2 separate regions of the Homo sapiens genome follow, and region 2 is linked to region 1. Evidence: fine-mapped expression QTL. A gene starts in region 1. The other region holds a variant in brackets. All regions are shown on one strand. Distances are from middle to middle.

What was found. PIP is the estimated chance that this variant, and not a neighbour inherited with it, causes the effect.
Region 2: its variant is the best candidate, but not a certain one, in a credible set for the expression of FCHO2-DT in whole blood (INTERVAL, PIP 0.74).

The regions. Positions count from the first base shown.
Region 1 is chr5:72,953,387-72,958,766 of GRCh38, forward strand. FCHO2-DT (FCHO2 divergent transcript) reads right to left here and starts at 2,498. Exons shown (of 2, transcript NR_186392.1): 1 at 1,628-2,498. FCHO2 (FCH and mu domain containing endocytic adaptor 2) reads left to right here and starts at 2,655. Exons shown (of 26, transcript NM_138782.3): 1 at 2,655-2,743. The coding sequence starts at 2,711. RefSeq lists a silencer at 2,548-3,247.
Region 2 is chr5:73,152,695-73,158,074 of GRCh38, forward strand. It overlaps the pseudogene LOC101060067. Among named protein-coding and RNA genes, the nearest start is that of TMEM174, 18 kb to the right of the region's middle. RefSeq lists enhancers at 2,555-3,055, 3,056-3,556. The variant C/T (reference allele first, on the strand shown) is at 2,631.

The sequences.
Region 1 (5,380 bases):
AACCTGGGAGGTGGAGGTTGCAGTGAGCTGAGATCGCACCACTGCACTCCAGTCTGGGCAACCAAGCGAGACTCTGTCTCAAAAAAAAAAAAAAAAAAGAGAATGTGTAAAAGATAATGGAATTATTACATATTCAAGGTCTCATCTACCTTGACATTTCTATGATAGATGTCATCATTCATTCATTCACTGAACATTTACTGACTCTTAAGTGACAGGTATTATAGGCAGTGACTTGTACACTGTTGTTATCTATGTTGGTTTTTAATAATTTCAAAATGAAATACATTTTGATAAGCAAAGTCTAAGAGAGTGTGGCACAAACACTTTAACGCATATAAGCTCGGTGGCTCATGCCTGTAACCCCACCCAGCACTACCCACTCAGGAGCTTATCTATGCTCTGCCAGAATGTATGTTCATCCCTGGAAACCTCACTTGAGAGTGCAGAAGGAGGCTGATACCATCCACGCTCTTCCTATACTACACAGTCTTGTCTGAAATTTAGTCACCTTAATCACTGTTTACTATAAAGTTCCACAACTTAAACATCAGGCAATTACAGGATATGGTGTTTCGGCCCTAATGAACCTTGCAAATACCTGAAATACTCAGAATACTTATTTTCATTCCAGATCTACTCCTAAATTTAAGGGGAGCAGAAGAATGCGAATGAAGGCCAGTAACTATTGTGAATACTATACTAAATTGTCTGTAGGTAATAGCCACACATTGGAACACTAACAAAAGGAAAATGTATGCTTGATACTACTGAGAAACAATACTTTGTCATGCAGGAATCTATAGCATTCAAGCTGAGATGAAGGATTTGACAAGTTAATTTGTCTTCTCTCTTACCTAAGCATTTCTGCTGCTCAAATTCTGACTCCAAAGCAGTCTCTGAAATGGGCAGCCATGCTATGTACAAATTTTCACTGCTTTTGGAGTTCACCGTTTGTTTTGAGGACAGAAGACAAAAGATAGGAAGAAGAGTTTTCCTGGGGCCTGAATAGTGTTCTTCACTGGGAGAGGGAATTTATGGTTATGAGCCAGTGTTCAGTATCAGATCACAAGCGGCAGGGGCACCTATTTTTTTTTAAATTAATGTGTGTGTGTGATATGTAAGTTCCTTTAAAGCATGGAGTCCAGGATAGAAGTCTCTCTTGCCCAGGTCTAAGGGTGCGGGGGGAAGGGGGGGGGCGCGGCGGTGGGAGGGAGTACTTTAGTGATACTAGGAATTTAATGCCAAATGTATTTGCTGTGTGACCTAGATGGCTGAATTTTTTAAAAAGTTCTTCAGCATCGAGAAAAATCCAGTTAGACCGATAGCTTAGAGAGCTGTAGCTTATTTCTAAATTTGACTTTCCCTAAAACTAAGTGTAAATGTCAGTGATATGAGGACTTTTTAAAGAAACAAAATAAAGAAACAAGATACACAAAAATAGAGCAACTATGGCCAATCTTGTTTCATCCCTTTTCATCTATGACCTTACTCATACCCCTATCCATAATAAATGACTTTCAGCAAATCCTAGATGTTCTGCATCCTATATCTTTCTAACAGATATTCTTAAAAAGTATGACCACAATACCATTATCCAATTATTCCTTGTTCAACAAGCACTTACAATTTCATCCATGTGAAAGGCACCTCATGATTTTTACTTGAGGATGAAGATAATTTCTCATGAATTCTCATTGTTTTAAGTCACCTGAAGAGGTGTGATATGCTACAATAAATCTATTTGTAGGGCTTGGCTTCAAGAACTGAAGATTCTGGACCTAGCTGATCTGGTGACAGTGAACTTGAGACCTCTAATAGCGTTTAACTATTTTTTTTTAACTTTTGGAAAGCAAGGTGTAGGAAGGGGATTTAGTTTTTCCATTAGGTCGTGGCATGTTAAGACTTGTTTCTTTTTCCAAAATGTTCAAGTTGCTGAAGAGAACTATGGACTATGGGTCAGGAAGTCCGTCGGTTTCGGGTCACATTCCGCTCCCGCAGGCCTGCGGGCCGCCCCAGCTGGTTTGTTCCCGGCGTGTTAGAGGTCAGAGGCCGAGGCCGCACTCAGTGCCTGGGTCTCGCGCAGCTCCAGGGCTCTCAGGCGACACTGGGCGTTTCCTTTCCGGCTTCGGAAAGTTTTGTTTTGGTTCAAGGAAAGGCGCCCTGTTGACCAAAGGCTTCTCAGTCTCCTCCGGGTGGCCAGCGGCCAAGTTTCCTCCAGCCCAGCGAGTCCAGACTATAGTCCGTTCGAGATCCTCGAAGGCCGGGGAAGCGAGTCTTGTGAGGAGAGAAAGCGAGTGGGCAGCCAGCCTGCCGACTCCACTGCCGCTGGCTGGCCCTTCTCTTCCCTCTGTCCCTGGGCCAGTGCCCGTCGCACCACAAACAGTGCGAGCAGTCTCCCCGGTGACTCCTCAAGGACCCAGTTCTCCACCATTCCTAAGAGAACACTCAACCCAGCCGCGCCCGGGATGCAGAGAGATCTACCAACACCCGAGAATGGGGACAGGGCGCATGCGCACACCGTGGCCGTGGCGTCTAAGTGCTCGCCCAGCTGCGGCAGCCGCTAGGTGGCGCATGCGCCCTGGAAGGTGCGGGCCGGTCTCTGGGAAGAAGGCGGCGGCGGCGAAAGGCGGGGGTGCTGTGGGGGCCGGGCCGTGTTTACACAGCGGCGGGCGGGCGCGGACGCGGAACCCGGCGCGGCGGCGGCACGATGGTCATGGCGTATTTCGTCGAGAATTTTTGGGTAAGCTTAGGATGTTGGAAGTCGTGTGTTTCGAAGTCCAAGGCTTTTGGCGCCTGAGCTTGGCCTGCGTGCGCTTCGGGCGGCGGCGGCGGCCCCTCCGGCAGGGCGAGCGTCCTCCTGCCGCGTCCCGCCTGGGTGAGGTCCGGCGGGCGACCGGTCGCCAGCCTATAGGGACTCCCGGGCTCGCAGCCCTATGGGGACGGGGGCTGTCACCGCGGCCCGGGGGCCCGCAGCGGGGCCGCCGGCCACCGGGGCTGGGACAAAGCGCCGGATGGGGCGGGAGACGGGACCCAGCCCCACCGGAGGCTCCCGGTGCCGCGCTCCGCGCGGGGCGTGCGCGGCAGCTCGGACGCGAAGGACGGGCCCGCGGCACAGCCGCCTCCCGCTGCGCGCTGGCTGGGAGCGCCGGGCGGTGGGGTTTTGCCTCCTGCCCTCACCGCGGGCCCCCCATCTGAGCGATCCCTTTTACCTCTGACGGTTTCCACACCAAATCCAGTGCGGGGTTGGGCTGGACTAGCACTTCCTCTCAGCCTCGCAGCTCGGCTCGTGGGTTTGCGCCCAGGACTTTGCCTCTGGGCCTGTTCACAAAGCGTTTAAAAGTTGGATTTAATGTAACTGGACTCCTTGGGCTTAAATGCATGGAGACCTCCCCCTACTCTGTGCTCCTTCCCCTTCCTCATTCTTTCCACCCCTTGTCTTAGCTCAGTATTAGATTCTTCTTTGAGAATTTCTCCGGCTCCCGGTGGAGTATTTTTCTGCAGTTATTGTTTTTTTTTTTGTAATGGGAAGTACAGTTCAGCCATGTACAGGAAAGGAACGTGTTTACTCAGGTATCTTTCGTGAATCCCATTTTATGCCCTGACAGTTGCAAGTACTGCAGGTCCATTTTCGTTGAGATTTAGACATATTTAAAGGGGTAATCTTTTAGCTAGTAAGGAATGTATGTTAAATTCTTAATTCTAAGTGCCTCAAGCATGGTCTTGGTTAGTAATCAGATCAGTTCATAGTTATTTATTTGTCTTGAATGTACCTTGTTTTCCACAAAGAACGTATATACTAGACCTTAGGTGTTTTGTTTTTTAAACAGCTTTATTGAGTTCACATTTCCGTACCAATACACTCATTTAAAGTGTAGTACAATTCAGAGGTTTTTTCATATGTTCATAGAGTTGTGTAAACATCACCATATCAGTTTTACAACAATTTCGTTATCCCAGAAAGAATCCCTAGACCCATTAGCAGTCACTCCCCATTTTCCCCCTGCCCCAGGCCTAGGCAACTAATGTATTTTCTGCCTCTCTGCATTTGTCTAGTCTGGACATATCCTATAAATGGGGCCATGGTGACCAGTTTCTTTCACTTAGCATAATGTTCTCAAAGTTTATCCATGATGTAGCATGTATCACTACTAATTCCTTTTTATGGTCAAATAATATTCCATTCCACATTTTATTAATATTTATCCAATCAGTGATGGACATCTGGTTGTTCCCACTTTTGGGTTATGAATAATGCTGCATGAACATTTTTGTACAAGTTTTTGTGTGAACATATGTTTTCATTTCTTTTGGGAATGGGATTCCTGGGTCAAATCGTAGCTCTATGTTTAACATTTTGAGGAACTGCCATACTATTCTGAAGTGGTTGTAGCATTTTACAATCCCACCAGCAATATCTGAGGGTTCCTCTCCACATGCTCACGAACACTTATTTGTCCTTTTTATTATAATATAGTGAGTGAACGTGAAGTAGTATTAATATTTTATTGTGGTTCGATTTGCGTTTCTTTGATGCTTAACATCACAGTTAATGTGCTTATTGCCTATTTTTATATTTTCTTTGGAGAAATGTCTATTTAGATTAATTGCCCATTTAAAAATTGGGTTGTCTTTTTTTATAATTGAGTTGTAAGAGTTTTTTTTTTTTTAATATTCTGGATACACACCTTATCTGATACATAATGTGCAAACATTTTCTCCCATTCTGTGGCCTGCCTTTTCATTTTCTTGATGCTGCTCTTTGAAGTAACTCATAAGTTTTTATTTCTCGTGAAGTCTTGGTGAAGTCCATCTTATCTATTTTTTTCTATTACTTGTGCTTTTATTGCATCTAACCCAAAAATTATTTGCCTAACCCAAAAATTACGCCTTTTTTCTTGTTTTCTTGTAAGGGTTTTATAGTTTTACTTCTTCTGTTTAGTTCTATGATCCATTTGAAGTTAATTTTTGTGTATGGTGCAAGGGAAAGGTATAACTTCATTCTTTTGCAATTGTGTATCCAGTTGTCCCAGTACCATTTGTTGAAAAGGTTCATCTTTCCCCGTTGAATTGTGGTACCATTGTCAAATATCAATCGACCAGAAATGTATGGATTCATTTCTGTATTTTCAATTCTATTCCATTGTCTTCCCTTACGACAGCCAGTAACACACAGTTTGGATTGCTGTTGTTTGGATTACAAATTTGTTTTGTATAGCAAATTTGGAATCAGGAAGTATGAGTCCTCTAGCTTTTTCCTTCTTTTTCAGGATTATTTTGACTGCCCTGGGTTCCTTGCATTTCCAGATGAATTTTAGGATTAGCCTGTCAATTTTAGGCATTAGGTTTTACAATGGCAATTTATAAAATGTTTTAAAGA
Region 2 (5,380 bases), 200 kb after region 1:
ATTTAGAGTTTTCAGACACCACAGCCTTGAAGCCTGTGGCCCCCTACGCCCCGCCTGATGAACCACAGCACACCACAGCAGGCCCTCTGCGCTGCAAGCCCTCCCAGGAGGTAACACTGAGACTCCACCTAGGCAAACACACACATACCTCTTGTGGCTACCTTTCCAGCAAAAAGCTCTACACTGCCCTCTGGAAGCCAAACCTCTTCTGAACTACAGCAGGCAATTTCCAAATCTGCCAGCCCTTCTCACCAAGAACATTCTGTGTTTTGGTGGCTAAGATTATGATTTTGAAGCAGCGTCATTTGTCTAGAGTAGTAACCGAGGTTCGTTGCCTCACACCAAGGAAATCAAGGATGTGGACACGTAAGGAGTGAGGTTAGGAGCAGAGGTTTAATAGGCAAAAGAAAGAAAAAAGCTCTCTCTCCTGCAGAGATGGGCTCCCAAGCAGGTTTTTCAGTTTCATGGTGAAATGCACAGCGTTTTATAGATGAGCTTGAGCAGACGGTTTCGATTGGTGGGACCAGGTGTGTCATTTACATAGCTTGTAAAGAAACTGGCCATACCACCCTTATTTTTTATGTGATGGGTTCTCTACCTGGCCTGTGCCATGTTGCCTGTTCCTTTATTGTACATGTGGTTGACAAAGAAAAGGGAAGATGGAGCCTCCATGTTGAACATGCCTGACCCCCGGGTAGCCTTTTTCTATTGGCACAGCTGCTGGCATTCTCCATGCAAGCTTCCAGCTTGTTTATCTATGTTTGCAGCTCAATTTTACAGGCTGCTCTTTGTTAGAAAATAAATGATTCGGGGGCTGCTTTTTGTTAAGAGAGAAGTCTTGCCGAGGATTCTCTTACCCTCACTATCTGCCTAAATAATTTATTTTAAGCTCCTGTATTAATTCCTGTTCTGGTTGACGTAATTTGGACCTCAACTCCAGAGTAGCCATCCTCAGCCAGCTCTCGAGTGAGAACTTTTTCAGTTCCACTTTGAGGATGCCATCAGTGACAAACTTCCTCTTCTTGGAGATCTGCACCCCCATCTTGCCACCGTGTGCCTCTGAAATGAAGGGCCAATGCGAGAGTTTTATCCTCTCTGCAGCAGAGTCCTTCTCTTGCGGGCAGGTATCTGCTTGTCTTTAAACAAAGATAGACCCTTTTCTCCTCTCTTGGTCAACCAGTGTCCTCCACTTCTCGAAGTTTCTGCTCTTGAGTTTTGTTTATATAGGACCCGTATGGAAGCTCCTTAGTGCCCCTTGCCCTCTTTCTACACCACGGCACTTCTATTGCAGCCAACAGTCTCGGTCTGCTAGATTCCCTGTTTCTCACTGAGAATCTATTTTTGAAGCTGGCCTTACAGGTCCTAAGTCCCTCCCTGCCAGGATGACCAGCTTGTCCCAGGTGGCTCAGAACTTTTCTAGTTTCAGCACAGAGAGTTTTGCATCCTGGGACCCCCCTCAGTCCAAGGCAAACCAGGATGCTTGGTGACCCCCACCCTGTCTCTGGAAGGGCTGCCCTTGAATCAGTTTCCCACCTCAGGCCCATCGGCCAAGAGAAGGTGATCCGGGTCACCTGGTGTCCAACAAGGCCTCAGTCTTTCAGTAGGGGTGGGTGGCTTCTCTGGGAGAGGGACCATGAATTGGGCCAGCAATGATCAACCTCTCCAGTTAAAACTATACTTAGATGAATTACTCATTAGAAGGGAAGGAAGTGAGGCATTATAAGTATACGTGTAGCAGTTTGATGCAGTAGAAAGCACATTGAATTGGAAGTCAAAATGCCTGGTTTCTGCCTCTGAACAGCAATAAAATCCCAGCATCAAACAGTTCATCTTTCTGAGCCTCAGTTTCTCCATCTGTAAAATGAAAGGTTTAATTTAGGGCTTGCTTCCTTTTTAACTTATGTTAGAGTTACTCCATATTCTTCAAGACATAATCTGCTATCATCATTATTAAATTCTTCCCTTTCCTCTCCTCCCTTCTTCCCTGTTCCCCTTCCTCTCCCTTCCTCCCTTCCCCTTCCTTCTTTCCTTCCTTCCTTCCTTCCTTCCTTCCTTCCTTCCTTCCTTCCCTCCTTCCTCCCTTCCTCTCTCCCTCCCTCCTTCTCCATTCCCAGCACTAATTCCTTTCTTCCCAACAGGCCACTACATCAATGTGAAAGATATTTATCCTTGAATAGGTATGTAGTTCTATAAGATATGATTATTATTTTGTGTATTTATTTAAAATTTACATATATTACATTATGTTATAGTCCTCATTTGCTTCCTAACGTTTCTTACTCAGCACCATTTAAAAATATATCCGTGGTGCTGGCTGTTGGTCTTTAAGACTCCTTCCAGAGTGGCACTTTATGAACCTTGTTTAGTATTGCAGAACGCTCTGTTATCCAAAGTTCTTCTACTTTGAATCAAATTATTGGTGGGCTTTTTAGAGGGGACCAAAGGGACAAGAAAGTATTACTCCAATGTTGGACAACTTTGGTCTGCATGAAAGGACCTAAATGGATTAATATATAGAGGACATTAAAGAGGAATAAATGAAGTACTGGGTGGCAAGAACCGTTGTGAATTCATCTTTGGCCCTTAATCTTGAAACTATGAAGCCATCTATGAAGCCAAAACTATGAAGC[C/T]GAATTCACATGCACGATTCCTGGAACAGCTTACCTCCTATGTGGAGCTGGCAGACATTCTCCAAGAGGAGGCAGGAAGAGTTCTCAGGCTCTCACTCACATATCATCAAGCATAGAAAAACTGCTTAAGACCTCAGCCAGAGATTGAACCCAAATCGGAAGACCTGTCCCCGGGGGGCCAATCTCTGTGGCTCAGAGGAGGCAAAGGAGACCCAGCCGCATCCCTCCCAGAGCGTTCTGTGGTTGTTAGCAGACGGGCTAGTGCCTCGCAGGTTGAGCAGCTCTCTTGGTGGCATTGAGGCTGAGGGAGCCATGTGGAGCCTGGGAATGGGCTGCGGGTGGGGAGCAGCTGTGGAATAGCCCCTCCTGGCTCTGCCTGCCTATGGCTGGGAGAACAGTTTCCATTTCAGGCAGCAGCAATTCACACTGGGTGGTCTCTGCCTTCCCTCCCTCAGTGCCTCAGTGCCACAGGCAACTGCCAGCAGGCTGAGAAAAGCACAGCTCCCCTTGGAGGACAGAGGCCTGTGCGAGGAGGCTGTTCTCTCCCACACTTCTGGCTCACAGGGTCTTCATCTCCACTCAGGCCTCTCAGCAAGCTCTGGAAAGACCTCTCGCAGCTCCGCTGGTGAGGCCTGTGAGCCAGGGCAGGGGCGGGGGTTGCTTTATGTTCCCCCGGTGACACACTTCCCGACCTACCTCAACTTTACAGAGGCACATGTTGACTCTATTCCAGGCCTTAACTATTTCTGTTCCTTTGAACATGTAAAACAAACAAAAACAACAATGAAACACAAAAACCAATAATAACAAATATAATAAAAACTCTGCAAATGCCCCTGAGGGTTTCCAGCCCCGCTCTCCACATCTCAGCCGACTTGGTGTTGAGATGCGTGCTTTCTGCCTCGGGTTGTATGATCTCTGAGGAGGAGATCATGGTGGCTGTGGGATTATATACACACGCTTTACCAAGATGTCTTCCTTTGCAGTGACAGGACTTAAGCTGACTCTAGGAATCAGAGAAGGTTCACTTTTGCCTTCAGGCCTAGGAGCAGCTCATCCTCAGTCCCCAGGCAGTGCCTCCCGGGGCTGCCTTCAGGGCCTCCTGACAAGGGCCTGGGTGCTTTACCCCCACCATAGACTCAAGCACTCAAGGAGAAAGTTTCCAGAAACTGAACAGGATGAAGTAATTATAGCCGAAAGTCACTGAACTTACTACGCTATGTGTTCTCTGTATGATCTCACTTGATCCTGATAACCTTATGATGTAGGTCCCATCATTCATAAATGAGGAAACTGAGGCTCAGTGAGGCTAAGCAGCTGGCCCATTTACATAGCTAGTGATTGGAGAAGCCAGAATTTGATTGTAGAAAAGACTCCAAAGCCTGTACTCTTAACCGTGACATGCATGGAAGCGCGCGCACACACACACACACACACACACACAATTGACATATATGTGCATTCTTTGGTCTCTACAGTGTAATCTTTTTTGTAATATTCACAAATCATACGTTGTTAGAAATGGAAGTCATTTTAGAGATTACCTATCTGACTCCTCCCCAACTTTTACTTCCATAGAAAAGGAAACTGGGGACCTACCTTAGAGAAATAGTTTTCAAACCTGAGCAAGCATCAGAATCACCCAAGGGACTGGCTAAAACACAGACCTCTGGCCCCATCTCCAGAGTTTCTAATTCTGTAGGTCGAGGTGGGGCCCAAAATATATATTTCTAACAAGTTCCCAGGTGCTGCTGCTGCTGGTTCTGGGCCCCCACTTGGAGAACCGCTGCAGTAGAGTAAATTGGACATGTGAAGGCCTGCAAGACCCACTGCAGTGTTGTTACTTGAACGTGCTTAGCAATGTTGATGAGGCCTGGACAAACATGTCCCCTGGTCACTCTTAGCAGACTCATTCGTCCTTTACTAACTCTCTTTGGGTCTCAGCAACAGAAACAGAATGTGGCAGGCAGAATTCTAAAAATGCTCCCCGCTAAAAAAAAAAAAATCCCACATCTTTATTCCTCAAAGCCTGAGAACATGTGGCATCGTTCCTATGATTGTGTTATGTTATACGGCACAGTGGACCCACAAAAAGGGAGTATCTGGGTGGGTGTAATTTAATCACATGGCTCCTTAAAACCGGATAACTTTCCATGGCTGTTGTGGCAGAAGAGTAGGGCAGAAAGGGGGAAATCAGAGAGACTTGAAGCTCAAGAGCTTGGCTAGTCTTGCAGCACTATTGCTGTTTTGAAGATGGAGCGGCCCAAGTGAGAAGGAATGTGGGGGGCTTCTAGGAGCAGAAAGGAATTTCTGGCAGGGAATTGGAACCTCAGTCTTATGTTGCTTAGGACCAAATTCGGCCAACAGCCTGAATGAGCTTGGGAACAGATTATTTCCTGAGCCTCCAGATAATACAGAGGGATGCCTGACCTACAGAACCGTGAACGAATAAATGAATGTAGTTTTAAGCCTCTAAGTGTGTGGTTATTCTGAAGTGGAAACTAACATACAAGTACATAAATTCCTGAGCTCAGAAGCAAGCCCACTGCAGACCTACTCCATCCAGAAGCTTCTCACACCAAGAGCTGGGCCTCTGGGAGGCTCACCTTATCATTTGCTGGAAATGGCAGTGGCTGTGACTTAAATTCCAGCCCCATCAAGGTAGTTTTCAGTTCAGTTGGTGTCTGAGTGCATTTTCTGCTGCTATAAAGGAATACATGAGGCTGAGTCATTTATAAAGAGAAGTTTAT